Linked DNA regions of Homo sapiens. The protein of the gene in region 3 purifies or fractionates together with the protein of the main gene of each other region. This does not show direct contact. Each region holds a gene or a part of one and is shown on either strand. Other genes may lie near its edges.

What was found. Proteins that work in one complex are often made in the same cells at the same time.
Region 1: the proteins of OR6T1 (region 3) and SAR1B purify together in Homo sapiens (affinity purification with mass spectrometry; one large-scale study listed by BioGRID and IntAct). This does not show direct contact.
Region 2: the proteins of OR6T1 (region 3) and MBTPS2 purify together in Homo sapiens (affinity purification with mass spectrometry; one large-scale study listed by BioGRID and IntAct). This does not show direct contact.
Region 4: the proteins of OR6T1 (region 3) and EIF2AK3 purify together in Homo sapiens (affinity purification with mass spectrometry; one large-scale study listed by BioGRID and IntAct). This does not show direct contact.

Annotation. Positions count from the first base shown.
Region 1 is NC_000005.10:134,630,029-134,634,280, reverse strand, and holds the start of SAR1B (small COPII coat GTPase SAR1B), read left to right. Parts: upstream 1-1,452; 5' UTR 1,453-1,553; intron 1,554-2,081; exon of another isoform or gene 2,082-2,204; intron 2,205-4,252. UniProt on the Homo sapiens protein: Small GTPase that cycles between an active GTP-bound and an inactive GDP-bound state and mainly functions in vesicle-mediated endoplasmic reticulum (ER) to Golgi transport.
Region 2 is NC_000023.11:21,863,617-21,867,116, forward strand, and holds part of MBTPS2 (membrane-bound transcription factor site-2 protease), read left to right. Parts: intron 1-3,500. UniProt on the Homo sapiens protein: Zinc metalloprotease that mediates intramembrane proteolysis of proteins such as ATF6, ATF6B, SREBF1/SREBP1 and SREBF2/SREBP2.
Region 3 is NC_000011.10:123,942,195-123,945,372, reverse strand, and holds OR6T1 (olfactory receptor 6T1), read left to right. Parts: upstream 1-1,534; coding exon 1,535-2,506; downstream 2,507-3,178. UniProt on the Homo sapiens protein: Odorant receptor.
Region 4 is NC_000002.12:88,617,465-88,620,964, forward strand, and holds part of EIF2AK3 (eukaryotic translation initiation factor 2-alpha kinase 3 isoform 1 precursor), read right to left. Parts: intron 1-3,500. UniProt on the Homo sapiens protein: Metabolic-stress sensing protein kinase that phosphorylates the alpha subunit of eukaryotic translation initiation factor 2 (EIF2S1/eIF-2-alpha) in response to various stress, such as unfolded protein response (UPR).

The DNA.
Region 1 (4,252 bases), on a different chromosome or scaffold from region 3:
CTACATGGGAGGATTCCTTGAGCCCAAGAGATTGAGGCTGCAGTGAGCTATGATAGCACCACTGGACTCCAGCCTGGGAGAAAGAGCAAGACCGTCTATATATATATATAATTTTTAAATTTATTTTTAATTTAATTAATTTATTTATTTTTTGAGACGGAGACAGAGTCTCGCTCTGTCGCCCAGGCTAGAGTGCAATGGTGCAATCTCGGCTCACTGCAACCTCCACCTCCCGGGTTCAAGCAATTCTCCTGCCTCGGCCTACCGAGTAGCTGGCGTTACAGGCACCTGCCATCATGCCTGGGTAATTTTCGTATTTTTGTAGAGATGGGGTTTCACCATGTTGGCCAGGCTGGTCTTGAACTCTAACCTCAGGTGATTCACCCACCTTGACCTCCCAAAGTGCTGAGATTACAGGTGTGAACCACCGCGCCTGGCCAAGACCGTCTATAAAACAACTGAATAACCAGCTGAATAAAAGCTGAATAACCAGCATCCAACACATTATCTGGTACGTAGCTACATTGTGTAAATCACTGGTGAATTCAATAAGCACAAATAACAAAAAAAGAAAAAAAAATGAATTCAATAAGCACGTGTACTTTGAAAATGTATTTTAGGCAGGGCGCGGTGGTGATCCCAGCACTTTGGGAGGCTGAGGCAGGTGGATCACTTATGCTAGGGAGTTTGAGACCAGCCTGGCCAACATGATGAAACCCGGTCTCTACTAAAAATACAAAAATTAGCCGGGCGCAGTGGCTCACGCCTGTAATCCTAGCACTTTGGGAGGCCGAGGCGGGCGGTTCACTTTAGGTCAAGAGTTCGAGACCAGCCTGGCCAACATGGTGAAACCCCGTCTCTACTAAAAATACAAAAATTAGCCGGGCATGGTGGTGCGCGCCTGTGCTCCCAGCTACTCAGGAGGCTGAGGTAGAAGAATCGCTTGAACCCGGGAGGCGGAGGTTACAGTGAGCTGAGATCGCGCCATTGCACTCCAGCCTGGGCGACAAAATCGAGGCTCCGTTTCAAAAAAAAAAAAAATTAGCCGGACAGTGGTGGCGGGTGCCTGTAGTCCCCGCTACTGGGGAGGCTGAGGTAGGAGAATCTCTTGAATCCAGGGGGTGGAGGCTGCAGTGAGCCGAGATCGTGCCACTGCACCCCAGCCTGGGAGACAGAGCGAGACAACGTCTCAAAAAAAAAAAATGCCAAAAGTAATTTCCCCTAGGGAGGCATGGGGTGTTCCTTTCTCGGCACGCAGGCCCCTAAAATCCCTTCGGGCGGGCGGGTGTGGGGAGACCAGGCGGCTGGGAGACCCAGGCGGTGTTAGGGGTTGCGAGCAGCCTCGCTCAACTGGGGAATTGGCGGCAAGACTGCCAGGAGGCGGAACCTAGGGCGCTCGGCGACGCGGTCCTGCGGACTGTCGCTAGTGAGGCACCCGCCGGCCCGGAAGGGGCTGATGCGAACTGGGGCCACGGCAGCCATCGCGCTTTGCAGTTCGGTCTCCTGGTGTACGGCCAACGCCAAGTAGGGGATTGCGTTCCCTCCAGTCGCAGGTGAGTGACAGCCCCTCCTTCTGGGAGGACCGGTGGGCAGCAGCTATGGATCCCCTAGAAGGCGCACTTTTAGGGCCAAGACCTACTCTGAGTCCCTGCCTGTGGCACTGCGTGAAGGGGCGCCTGTTTTTCACCCCGGGGTTAGGCGGCGCGAGGGAGGACAGGTCTCATCCATGCTCCGCGGGGCCGTCTGATAGCCCTCGAGGCAGAACACTGCTGCTGTCAGACGCTTGGTCTTTTCAGGAAAGAACGAGGTGGCTGCAGGCAAGCCCCTTCCTTCCCCTGGGCCTCAGTTTCCTTACCTGGTAAGGTGAAGGTGGCGGGTCTCACTGACAGCTGAAGAGGCTGTGACACGGCCTGGTGTTTTCAGCGCTCCCAATTAGTGTAGAGGCAAATTGAGCTTCCTTACTAGTACTGGTTAACGTTTTCCGTAGCCCAAAGTCCCAGTTAAGTGGAAAAAAGATACACTGTTGAGAAAACTGTACTGATTTTTGTTTTAATTTTTTAAATTTTTGTTGTTGTTTTGAGACAGAGTTTCCCTCTTGTCGCCCAGGCTGGAGTGAAGTGGCACGATCTCGGCTTACTGCAAGCTCCGCCTCCCGGGTTCACGCCATTCTCCTGCCTCAGCCTCCCGAGTAGCTGGGACTACAGGTGCCCGCCACCACGCACCGCTAATTTTTTTGTATTTTTTAGTAGAGATGGGGTTTCACCGTGTTAGCCAGGATGGTCTCTTATCTCCTGACCTCGTGATCCGCCTGCCTCGGCCTCCCAAAGTGCTGGGATTATAGGCGTGAGCCACCGCATCCGGTCTAACTTTTCTATTTTTAGTAGAGATGGGATTTCTCTATGTTGGCCAGTCTGGTCTCCAACTCCTGACCTCAGGTGATCTGCTCGCCTCGGCCTCCCAAAGTGCTGGGATTAAAGGCATGAGCCACCTCAGTGGGCCACTGTACTGATTTTTAAGGTGTTGAAGCTTTTCCAAGAAGATTTGTTTTAAAACAGCTAAAACTTTGACATTGTTAGCTGAAAGAACCAAATTCGTCAGCAATTTAAGGTGTTTGGTACAGTGGACAAAATGAGGTGAAGAAGTCCTTTTAACTTGAAAAATTAAACATAGTATTATTTATTTGTGTGTTCTTACATCAGCCTCTATATTACTAAGTGTCTTTGAAGACGTCCTATATTCCGTGTTAAAGTATCAGTGAAGAGTAGGTCACATTGAAACAATGAAAGAAGGAAAGAAAAGGAACATTTATTGACTACTATGAGTAAGGCACTAGCTGTCATTTTACAGATGACAAATAAATGGTGGTGCCAGTATAGCAAAGCAACATGATTATCTACTATTATACCTTTCAGTAGACTTGTGTCTGTCACCAAAATGTTTTGAACTTAAAAAATGTTAAGATAGTTCATTGGCATTTTCTGAGTTTGTAGAAAAGGAAGGTGTCTTCATTTTAGAAATGTCAGAGATGCACTGTCAGTAATTACAAAGATTAGCAGTTTAAATAAGGTATATTTTAACCTTCCTTTGACTTGCATTATTGTACTGGAATAGAAATTCAAGCAAGAATTAAGAAAAAAGATGAGTCTAACAGAAATGAAAATCAGCCTGGGCAACATAGCAAGACCCAGTCTCTACATTAAAAAAAAAAAAATTTGCTGGGTGCAGGGCCCTGGCTAGCAGGCCAGTAGTCCCAGCTACTCGCTGCTGAGATGGGGGGTTTGCTTGAAGCCAGGTCAAGACTACAGTGACCTGTGATCATGCCACTGCACTCCAGCCTGGGTGAAAGAAAAAGACATTGTTGCTAAAAAAAAAAAAAAAAAAAAAAAAAAAAGAAAAAAAAAGAAATAGAAAAGGAAATGAAAATCATTGCCACATCATTTGAAGCTTACAAGTTGGAATGCTATATTAGTATTTCTTTTCTTTTTTCTTTTTTTTTTTTTTTGAGACGGAGTCTCGCTCTATCGCCCAGGCTGGAGTGCAGTGGCTCCAGGCTGACTGCAACCTCCACCTCCAGGGTTCAAGTGATTCTCCTGCCTCAGCCTCTCAAGTAGCTAGGATTACAGGCATGCACCACCACATCCTGCTGATTTTTGTATTTTTAGTAGAGATGGGGTTTCACCATGTTGGCCAGGCTGGTCTTGAACTCCCGAACTCAAGTGATCTGTCCGGCTTGGCCTCCTAAAGTGCTTGGATTACAGGCGTGAGCCACTGTGTCCTGCTATAGGTGTATTTCTACACTTACTTTTTTTTTTTTTTTTTTTTTTGAGATAGAGTTTCGCTCTTGTTGCCCAGGCTGGAGTGCAATGGCGTGATCTCCAGCTCACTGCAACCTCTGCCTCCTGGGTTCAAGCGATTCTCCTGCCTCAGCCTCCCGAGTAGCTGGGATTACAGGCATACACCACCACACTCAGCTAATCTTGTATTTTTAGTAGAAACAAGATTTTTCCTTTTTGGTCAGGCTGGTCTCGAACTCCCAACCTCAGGTGATCCGCCCCCCTCAGCCTCCCAAAGTGCTGGGATTACAGGCGTGAGCCACCTCCCCCAGCCTTCTACACTCATTTCGTTAAGTACTCACTTGGCTGAGCATAGTATTTCTACGCTCGCTCACTTTAAATACTCATCCCAACTCGGGGTTTCACTATGTTGGCCAGGCTGGTCTCGAACTCCTGACCTCAAGTGATCTGCCTGCCTT
Region 2 (3,500 bases), on a different chromosome or scaffold from region 3:
TACTGAGACTTCTTTTTCCTTAAAATTGACACCTAATGTCCAAAACTAAGACTAAAGAAGGTTATATATATCCCCACCAATAATTGGGTCCACGCACCTCTTTCAGAGCTTATTAAATGGTATAGAACTAACTAGTCCCGCTATCCCAAACATCACCTAGCCCATTAACTTCTCATTCCCAGTTGTGAGTTGTCAGCCTAGTAGACAGCTGAACAGCTTTGCCCTGCCGTCTTTCCCAGGCAAGGGGGCAAGGTTAGGGGTGGGGAGGAGATGCTTATCTTGCCCTGAATTCAAGACAGGACAAATTCAAAGATCTGGAATTGTCTCTAAAAAGAAGAGTTTAGTATCCCTGCTAAATGTTTGCTGAGCTGTGAGCTCACCGTGGTGTAGCCATCAAAGTGGAAGACAACGTGGGAAACCTGTGTGTTCCTCAAAGTTTAGGGATGTACATAAATTATGTATTTAGAGGGAGAGAGAAATATGTGTGTACCCTCTGCCTACTTTATTGGTTTTAAATTTAGGAATATAATTTCATTGCTTCTAAAATGTCTTCCCACTTCCATGTAAAAAGTCCAGGGTGTCATTTAAATCTAGTTTTTTGTTTTGTTTTGTTTTGTTTTTTGTTTGTTTGTTTGAGACGGAGTTTTGCTCTTGTTGCCCAGGCTGGAGTGCAATGGCACGATCTTGGCTCACTGCAACCTCCGCCTCCTGAGTTCAAGTGGTTCTCCTGCCTCAGCCTCCGAAGTAGCTGGGATTACAGGCACCTGCCACCACACCCAGCTAATTTTTTATGTTTTTTTAGAGATGGGGTTTCACCACGTTGGCCAGGCTGGTCTCGAACTCCTGACCACAGGTGATCCACCCGCCTCAGCCTCCCAATAAATCTAGTTTTATAATGCTACTTTTAAAGAGTTGCATATATAGGCCAGGTGTGGTGACTCACGCCTTTAATCCCAACACTTTGGGAGGCTGAGGTGGGCAGGTTACTTGAGCTCAGAAGTTTGAGACCAGCCTGGGCAACATGGCAAGATTCCGTCTCTACTAAAAATACAAAAAATTAGCTGAGCATGGTGGTGCATGCCTGTGGTCCCAGCTACTCAGGAGGCTGAGGTGGGAGGATGGCTTGAGCCTGGGGGGCAGAGGTTGCAGTGAGCAGAGATTGTACCACTGCACTCCAGCTGGATGACAGAGTGAGAACTCTGTTTCAAAAGCAAAATAAGTTGTATATGTAATAGGTTTTTTTCTTTTTTTCTTTCTTTCTTTCTTTTTTTTTTTTTTTTCTGAGACAGGATATCACCCTGTCACCCAGGCTGAAGGGCAGTGGTACAATCACCGCTCACTGCAGCCTCGACCTCCTGGGTTCAAGTGATCATCCCACTTCTCAGTCTCCCAAGTCGCTGGCACCACAGGTGTGCACCACCACACCCAGCTAATTTTTGTATTTTTTGTAGAGAGGCGGGTCTTGCCATGTTGCCCAGGCTGGTCTCAAACTCCTGGGTTCAAGAGATACAACCACCTCGGCCTCCCAAAGTGCTGGGATTACAGGCATGAGCTAGAGCTACCACACGGGGCTATTTCTTTAAAAAAAAAAAAATGAAATATATACTGATTTTGAAAAGAAAAAGCCACTAAACATCTGTCTGAAATTTGGTGGGGAAAAAAGAGAGATGAGATGAGATACTTCCTGAGCACACTGTAAATGAAGATGTTTAAATTTTGAATTATGGTGTATAGAATTTTTAGAAGAGGGATTAAACAATACCTGCTATCTGGTTCCAAGTGAAGAGTAGATTGCTTTAAAAAAATTCTCTATGCTTTGTTGCTAAAAATTCCTTTATAAATAGTGGAAGTAAAATTTGACCATTCTGTTTCTATACTTAAATGTTTTTAAATCCTTCTTAAATATTGAAAACCCTGTTCTTATTTGTATAAGCCAGTTGTAAGTTTATTTGAGGGCAAAGTAAAAAACATTGGTGATAAAAGTGATGTTGTGATTATAGTAAGCTGGAATTTAAACTTAGAACACAGTGTAAGCCTTGCCAAATTGATAGTTTACATTCTTTCAGCTATAACTACTGTGAGTTATTCAAGGAATATTGAGTTGTTATTTTACCTATTCAGTCATCTGGTGACCTGTAAATCATTTCTGTGTGTTTAGAGAATTAAGGTAGTTGTGGTTTTTTTTTATTATTATTTGCAAACCACACTAAGCATAAGTAGGGCTTGATTGGGGTAGCCCTTAGCCCCCGCTTAATAATAATCACCAGCTTCAAGTCTATGGGTATCTTGCTGCCTTGATGACAACTATAGATTTTCTTCTCCCTTGACCCATGATTTTTGTTTGTTTGTTTGTTTTGTTTTTTTGTTTCTTTGAGACAGAGTATCTTTCTGTCACCCAGGCTGGTCTCAAACTCCTGGTCTCAAGTGATCTGCCCACCTCAGCCTCCCAAAATGCTGGGATTACAGGCATGAGCCACCGTGCCCGGCCCCATGATATTTTTAAACCCTGAGTCTCCCATATTCTGATTTTTCTACTGTTGCCCCAGTCTCATTGCTTAGTATATAAACCAGAATAAAATTGATCCTCAATTCCATCTAAGTCCTACTGTTTCTTGGCTGTTGTTTTATTAAAATCATGAAGAAAGCAAAAAAGGCATTCCATCACAACTATTGAAAAGTGTTCTAGAAGTTACAGTCATTGCTATAAGACCAAACAGGAAGGAAAAGATGAGGTATGAATGTTGGAGGAGATAAATGATTATTATTAGCAAATAATGGAAAATCCAAGAGAATAAAGACTAAGACATCCTAAATGGAAAGTTCAGTTTGGTGATTAATTACAAAGTAAATATACAAAAATAAATGTAGTATTCCTGTGTATCTGAAAGAAACAGATCATGTAATAGGAAGAAAAGATCTCATTCAGAAAGTAATGTGACATATAAAAAATAAAAAACTAACATTTTAAAAGAAGTACACAGGGCCTATATAGAGAAACTACAAATCTGTACTGAGAGATGTAGAAGATTTCAGTAAACAGATGTCGTGTTCCTATGTCAGAAATGTAAAATTATGGATTTACCCCTAGTTATTGCAGTCATTGCAGTGACATTAGAAATCCTAATGTGGGCCAGGCGTAGTGGCTCACACCTGTAATCCTAGCGCTTTGGGAGGCCGAGGTGGGCGGATCACTTGAGGTCAGGAGTTCAAAACCAGTCTGGCCAACATGGTGAAACCCTGTCTCTACTAAAACTACAAAAAAATTAGCCGGGCGTGGTGGTGGGCGCCTGTAATCCCAGCTACTCGGGAGGCTGAGGCAGGTGAATCACTTGAACCCAGGAGGCAGAGGTTGCAGTTAGCTGAGATCTCGCCACTGGGCAACAGAGCGTGACTCTGTCTCAAAAAAAAAAAAAAAGAAAAAAAGAAAAAAAATCCTAATTTGAATAATATTTGGTGGTTGTCAAAATGATTCTCAAATTTATCAGAAAGGATAAGGGGAG
Region 3 (3,178 bases):
TTTGACGGACTTTATAAGTTACTTTTAATAATATTTAACCAAAGCTTTGGAAATAGCCACAGTAGCATGTTTTCCTTATCTGAAATGATTATGTTATCCTGAAACAGTGCTCTGGCCTCCTTTGCTGGGTTTTATTATGGTATTTCTTTGATTTTGGAGACACAAGCCCTAGACTAGCAGAATGAAGCATTATTATTACTTAGCTACTTAAATCCCAGACTTATTCTTTCCAAAATTGATGTAAACAGAACAGAAATATCCTTCAAACCTGGATTTCTTGCCTCAGTTCAATACTATCTGTTAAAGTAGCTTCAGACAGAATTGAGAAAATATCTGTGCTCCTCGTCTTTAACACTGTTGGTCTGAAGTAATAGATATTCCTCAGTTAAACTGTCTAAACTCTCAACACTTCATTCCTTGTCAATTAAACAATGTAACTTGATGCTCATTTTCATTCTTTTTGTCTTAGAACATTTTCCATTTTCCCTGATTAGGCCAAATCTATGTGATTCTGAGTATTTGGTGCTAGATGTTTAAAAAAAAAAAAAAGAACCCAAGATATCTAATTGTCTAATGAAATCCAGTCCTTCAAAACATGTGGATACATTTTACAGGATTCCAAAAGCTCCAAGGACAAGATGAACATATCTCCAAATTAAGGCAAAAGTTGAGAAGGCAAGTTGATATATACCATCTCCTTTGAGACCATTCTCCCTTATTCCTCATTTTATACTATTAGAATATTGAGCAAGCTGAAGGTAAGAGAAGCTAGTAAGCATTCCACAAGGAAGAAGGATTTCTAGCATTCTACAGGAGTCTGGATTGGGGGAAAAAAGAAAAATAACACTTTATGACAGGACTGGGCTTTGCACAATCCGGTCCTATTTGGCTTCATGGCTGACTAATGAAAATTAAATCTCTGAGTATACCGAGAGCCCAGATTTTTAAATTCTGTTATTTTATGTCAAGCCAGGACACAGAAGGACCATAAACACTAAAATGAGAGTTCTTAATACCAGTAAAATTTGTTCATGGTGCATTTGTTCTGTGAAGTCTTCTCTGACCCCTCTACTCCTCTGGACTCGTCTAAAGCCACACTACTCACACGGTTCTCTGCCTGAGCTCAACAGTATCAGCAGCATGTGCTGGAGTCACAGAAGCTCAGTATGAAATCCTGCCTCTACCACCTGTTTCCTACCTGATCATAGAAGAGTCACTTAAACTCCCTTCGTCATCCTTTTCTTATCTTTGAAAATAGTAAAACATAGTTTTAAGAGTAGCTAGGAGAAGAGATACTGTGCACCGTGTAAATTTTCAGATATATAATTGATGTTCAATATTGCCATGCTGCTTACTATTGTAATTTGTTTCTCTCTTTGTAAGTCACGTGCAGACCAAACTATAGATCAACATATTCTCAGAATGTAAGGAAGTGTTGGGTGTTCAATATTATTTTACCGATTGGTTAAATGATGATTGGTAGCTATAGACCAGTTACAGAGTTCTGTTTCATTTCCCCTGCAGGTGACTGAAGATGAACCCTGAAAACTGGACTCAGGTAACAAGCTTTGTCCTTCTGGGTTTCCCCAGTAGCCACCTCATACAGTTCCTGGTGTTCCTGGGGTTAATGGTGACCTACATTGTAACAGCCACAGGCAAGCTGCTAATTATTGTGCTCAGCTGGATAGACCAACGCCTGCACATACAGATGTACTTCTTCCTGCGGAATTTCTCCTTCCTGGAGCTGTTGCTGGTAACTGTTGTGGTTCCCAAGATGCTTGTCGTCATCCTCACGGGGGATCACACCATCTCATTTGTCAGCTGCATCATCCAGTCCTACCTCTACTTCTTTCTAGGCACCACTGACTTCTTCCTCTTGGCCGTCATGTCTCTGGATCGTTACCTGGCAATCTGCCGACCACTCCGCTATGAGACCCTGATGAATGGCCATGTCTGTTCCCAACTAGTGCTGGCCTCCTGGCTAGCTGGATTCCTCTGGGTCCTTTGCCCCACTGTCCTCATGGCCAGCCTGCCTTTCTGTGGCCCCAATGGTATTGACCACTTCTTTCGTGACAGTTGGCCCTTGCTCAGGCTTTCTTGTGGGGACACCCACCTGCTGAAACTGGTGGCTTTCATGCTCTCTACGTTGGTGTTACTGGGCTCACTGGCTCTGACCTCAGTTTCCTATGCCTGCATTCTTGCCACTGTTCTCAGGGCCCCTACAGCTGCTGAGCGAAGGAAAGCGTTTTCCACTTGCGCCTCGCATCTTACAGTGGTGGTCATCATCTATGGCAGTTCCATCTTTCTCTACATTCGTATGTCAGAGGCTCAGTCCAAACTGCTCAACAAAGGTGCCTCCGTCCTGAGCTGCATCATCACACCCCTCTTGAACCCATTCATCTTCACTCTCCGCAATGACAAGGTGCAGCAAGCACTGAGAGAAGCCTTGGGGTGGCCCAGGCTCACTGCTGTGATGAAACTGAGGGTCACAAGTCAAAGGAAATGATCTTATTAAATGGGAGATTAAATGTTTATTGAAAATTTTTTAAATGTGCAAGAAGTTTAAGGGATGTAGGCAACACTGTTCACTTTTCTCAGCTAATGAAAGAACAGTCTTCATAAATATACAACATGAAATACGGTGGTAAACCTTCATTTTCCCTCCCTACAACCTTCCTTGTGCCTCCTCCTCCCCACAGAGAAGGCTGATCCAATTGGTCAAATTTCTTTCAAGATGGAATCCTTGGATTGGAGAGCATGTGTGAGCACGTGACCCGCATACAGGGAGGCTCCTCCTTCTCTTCGTGTGTGCTTAAACACTTTTCTTACTGCCTCAGTCTCCTGTGTCATGTAGCCAATCAGAAGATGCTGAAATATGGAGATTCAGATTTGGAGCTCAGTGGGGAGTAAGAGGGTCTCTGAGGTCTTCCAACTAGACTGGGTACTGCAAATAAAATTAACCAGAACCTCTGTATTATTAGAAAATCAAATTCTGGCTGCAGTAATAAATGGTTCTCTGATTTGCATTTGTTATTGCTCCTTATGTAACTAGCAGCTCCTATAGGAATCTCATAAAGGAAGAATGTTAAGACCAGTGAAATATTTGGATAGCCCTAATTCCTAAGTCAAACTCTACTAACAAACTCAAATATGGCAACAAACTGAAATATGGCAACAC
Region 4 (3,500 bases), on a different chromosome or scaffold from region 3:
GCAATAGACACTGCAGAGTACTGGCCGGGGGTGAGTTGAAAAACTACCATTGGGGCCAGGTGCGGTGGCTCACGAGGTCAGGAGATCAAGACCATCCTGGCCAACGTGGTGAAACCCCATCTCTACTAAAATATAAAAAAAAATTAGCCGGGCGTGGTGGTGCATGCCTGTAGTCCCACCTACTCAGGAGGCTAAGGCAGGGGAATCGCTTGAACCCAGGAGGCAGAGGTTGCAGTGAGCCAAGATCACGCCACTGCACTCCAGCCTGGCAACACAGCGAGACTCCATCTCAAAAAAAAAAAAGAAAAACTACCATTGGGTACTATGCTCACTACCTGGGTGTAATATACTATGTAACAAATCAGCACATGTACTTCCTGTATCTGAAATAAAAGTTGAACTTAAAAAAGGTATGGCATTTAGAACAAACACAGCCAGGTGCAGTGGCTTTCCTTTGTAAACCCAACACTCAGGGAGACTGACGCAGGAGAACTGCTTGGAGGGCCAGGAGTTTCAGACCAGCCTATGCAACATACTGAGACTCCAAATGTACAAAAATACTTTAAAAATTAGCCGGGTATGGTGGCAGATGCCTGTAGTCCCAGCTACTCAGAGGCTGAGGTGGGAGGATTGCTTGTGCCCAGGAGGTCGTGGCTGCAGTGAACTGTTATTGCACCACTGCAGTCCAGCCTAAGTGTTAGAGTGAAATGCTGTCTCCAGAAAGAAGAAGAAACATAAACAGAGATAAAAAGTGAAAAATGAACACCTCCCAAAACAGGAAGAATATAAGGTTATTTATCTCCCCAAGACCACTTGCCCTATTTTGAGGGTTCCAAGATCAAGATGAAAAACTCTTAACTTATTCAAGAATTGAAGGAACTGCAGAGACAGCTTTTCCAGTGGAAAGAACCAAAGCCTAAGTCAGACCTGGGTGTACATCCCCAAGGCTCTCCTCTCATTCTCCTCATGGCTTCATTCGAGTTATTTTTTCATAGGCAAAATATGGTTATTTCACCTATCTCAGTGTAACCCAAGTGTACCTGATCATAAAAATAATCTGGAGTGCTTGTTAAAAACCATTAAAGGTTCCCACGTCTCATCCTAAGAGGGAGACTGGGAGAATGTAGCCTAACAAGCACCCCAGGTGAGTCTCATAAGACCAGTTGTGCAAACACTGTTTTACCTTAGTCATTTCCATAGAGAAAAATTAAATTTATGATGTGGATGAAGAAGGCATATTGAACATCTCTGTCAGTAAATACTTTGGAGACTTCTGTCTCTCACTTACATTTTGCTGTAGCTTACAAAAGCATTTATTTGGATGATTCCTCAGCAAGCCCTGAACTCTCACCCATGATCCAATCCTTGGAAGCCACTCTCAAGAAAGATTTTCAATGGTTTCCTAACTGCCAGATTCACTCCCCTCATCAGGCCTGTCTTCACAAAAGCCACCGTTGTGGCCAGCTCCTCATTCTGGACATTTTTCTTTCCTGGTTTCTACAGGACCAGTCCCTCCTGGGTCCTCATCTATCATTCTTTTTTTTTTTTTTTGGGGGGACGGAGTCTTGCTCTGTCGCCCAATGGTACGATCTCTGCTCAATGGCAACCTCCGCCTCCCAGGTTCAAGCGATTCTCCTGCCTCAGCCTCCCAAGTAGCTGGGATTACAGGTGCCCACCACCATGCCCAGCTAATTTTTGTATTTTTTAGTAGAGGTGGGGGTTCACCATGTTGGCCAGGCTGGTCTCGAGCTCCTGACCTCAGGTGATCTGCCCGCTTCAGCCTCCTAAAGTGCTGGGATTATAGGCGTGAGCCACCGTGCCCGGCCTCACCTATCATCCTTATAGTTTTCTATCTATAGAGCAGGCATTTTCCTGTTTGTACTACATGTTCTACCTAGATGGTCAATGTCTACAGCTTCACCTCCATCTATAGTATGACAGCCCCCAAACCTGTACAGGATTTATAGTTCACCATCTCTCCCCTATCCTAGTTCTGCATCTTCAGCAGGATCTACTTGTTATCACCATAACAGGCTCAGGAAACTTCTTTCCCACAATCTATTCCTGCCACTTAAAAGGGTAGCCATCCATCCTATTACCTAACATTTAAATCAGACATCAACTCTTTGTGCTCCCTCATCCTCTACATTTAAACAACAGCCATGTACTCTTAATTCTATTTCTGAAGCTTCTCTTAAATCTTTTCTGGCTGGGCACGGTGACTCACCCCTGTAATCCCAGCACTTTGGGAGGCCAAGGCGGATGGATCACCTGAGATCAGGAGTTCAAGACCAACCCGGCCAACATGGTGAAACCCTATCTCTACTAAAAATACAAAAGTAAGCCGGGTGTGATGGCATGCACCTGTAATCCCAGCTAATTGGGAGAGGCTGAGACAGGAGAATCACTTGAACCTGGGAGGCGGAGGTTGCAGTAAGCTAAGATTGCACCACTGCACTCCAGCCTGCACGACAGAGCGAGACTCCGTCTCAAAAAAAAAAAAAAAAAAAATCTTTGCCTTCTTCATTACCACAGCTCTTGCTCTAGAAGATTCTCATTTCTCATCAGAACACCTTAAAATGCTTTCTAACACATTTTCCTGCCTCAGGTTTCTTTCCCCTCTCTTCTTCCCACAGTTTTGTTTCTGTAATAGAGATCTGATAAACTTCCAAGGTTCCCTGTGCCCACTGAAAAAGAAAGGTCACACTGCTTGGTGTGGCACATAAAGCCTTTCACAATTTGGTTTCGGTGTACTTTCCTAATCTCATTTTTCTGCCTCTTGTACCAGCCCAACCCTCTCTCCCCTCTCCTTCCCAGCTCCACACTCCCCCCTTTCCATGGGGTGAACTTTTCAAAAGTTCTCTTGTCTATATTTTCCTCCATGTCTTAAATTATTCCACCTGCCAAATGAACACTGTGTATAATAAATTCTCCCATCTTTAGAGGAAATACTTAAGAACCAATCAAAATATTCAACATTTCTTGAAAGAACTGTAATTACTATATAAGGTTTTATATAATTCTAGTTCAAAGCAAAGGAACTTCACTTTTTAATGTACCTTCTATTAAATATTTAATTTCCATTAGGTTATTTTAAAATACTGGCAGTCTCATGGATCCCCATTTTTATCTTTGCAGATCTGTAGGGGTCCTGGAGCCCTGGCTTAGGAACCACTGCTCTGTGCTCACTGTACAAACTCCCTGCTCTGTGCCCTTGCTCACACTATTCTGTTGCCTACACTGTCCTTGATATTTTTCTCATTCCGGGACTCAATAACTTGCCACTTCCATTCTTTTCACTCACACTACTTTTATGTCACTTATTATCCATTCGAGGATAGTTAATTCTTTAACACAATGATCTGTCAGGCTTGGAGCTTCCTACGGAAAAGACATTTATCTACTCTCAGGGCCTAGCAGTACCTGGGCCCCAGTAAAACTAAATAAATGTTTGTTGAATGAATAAACCTTGGTAGGACAAACATATTATCTACACAAAA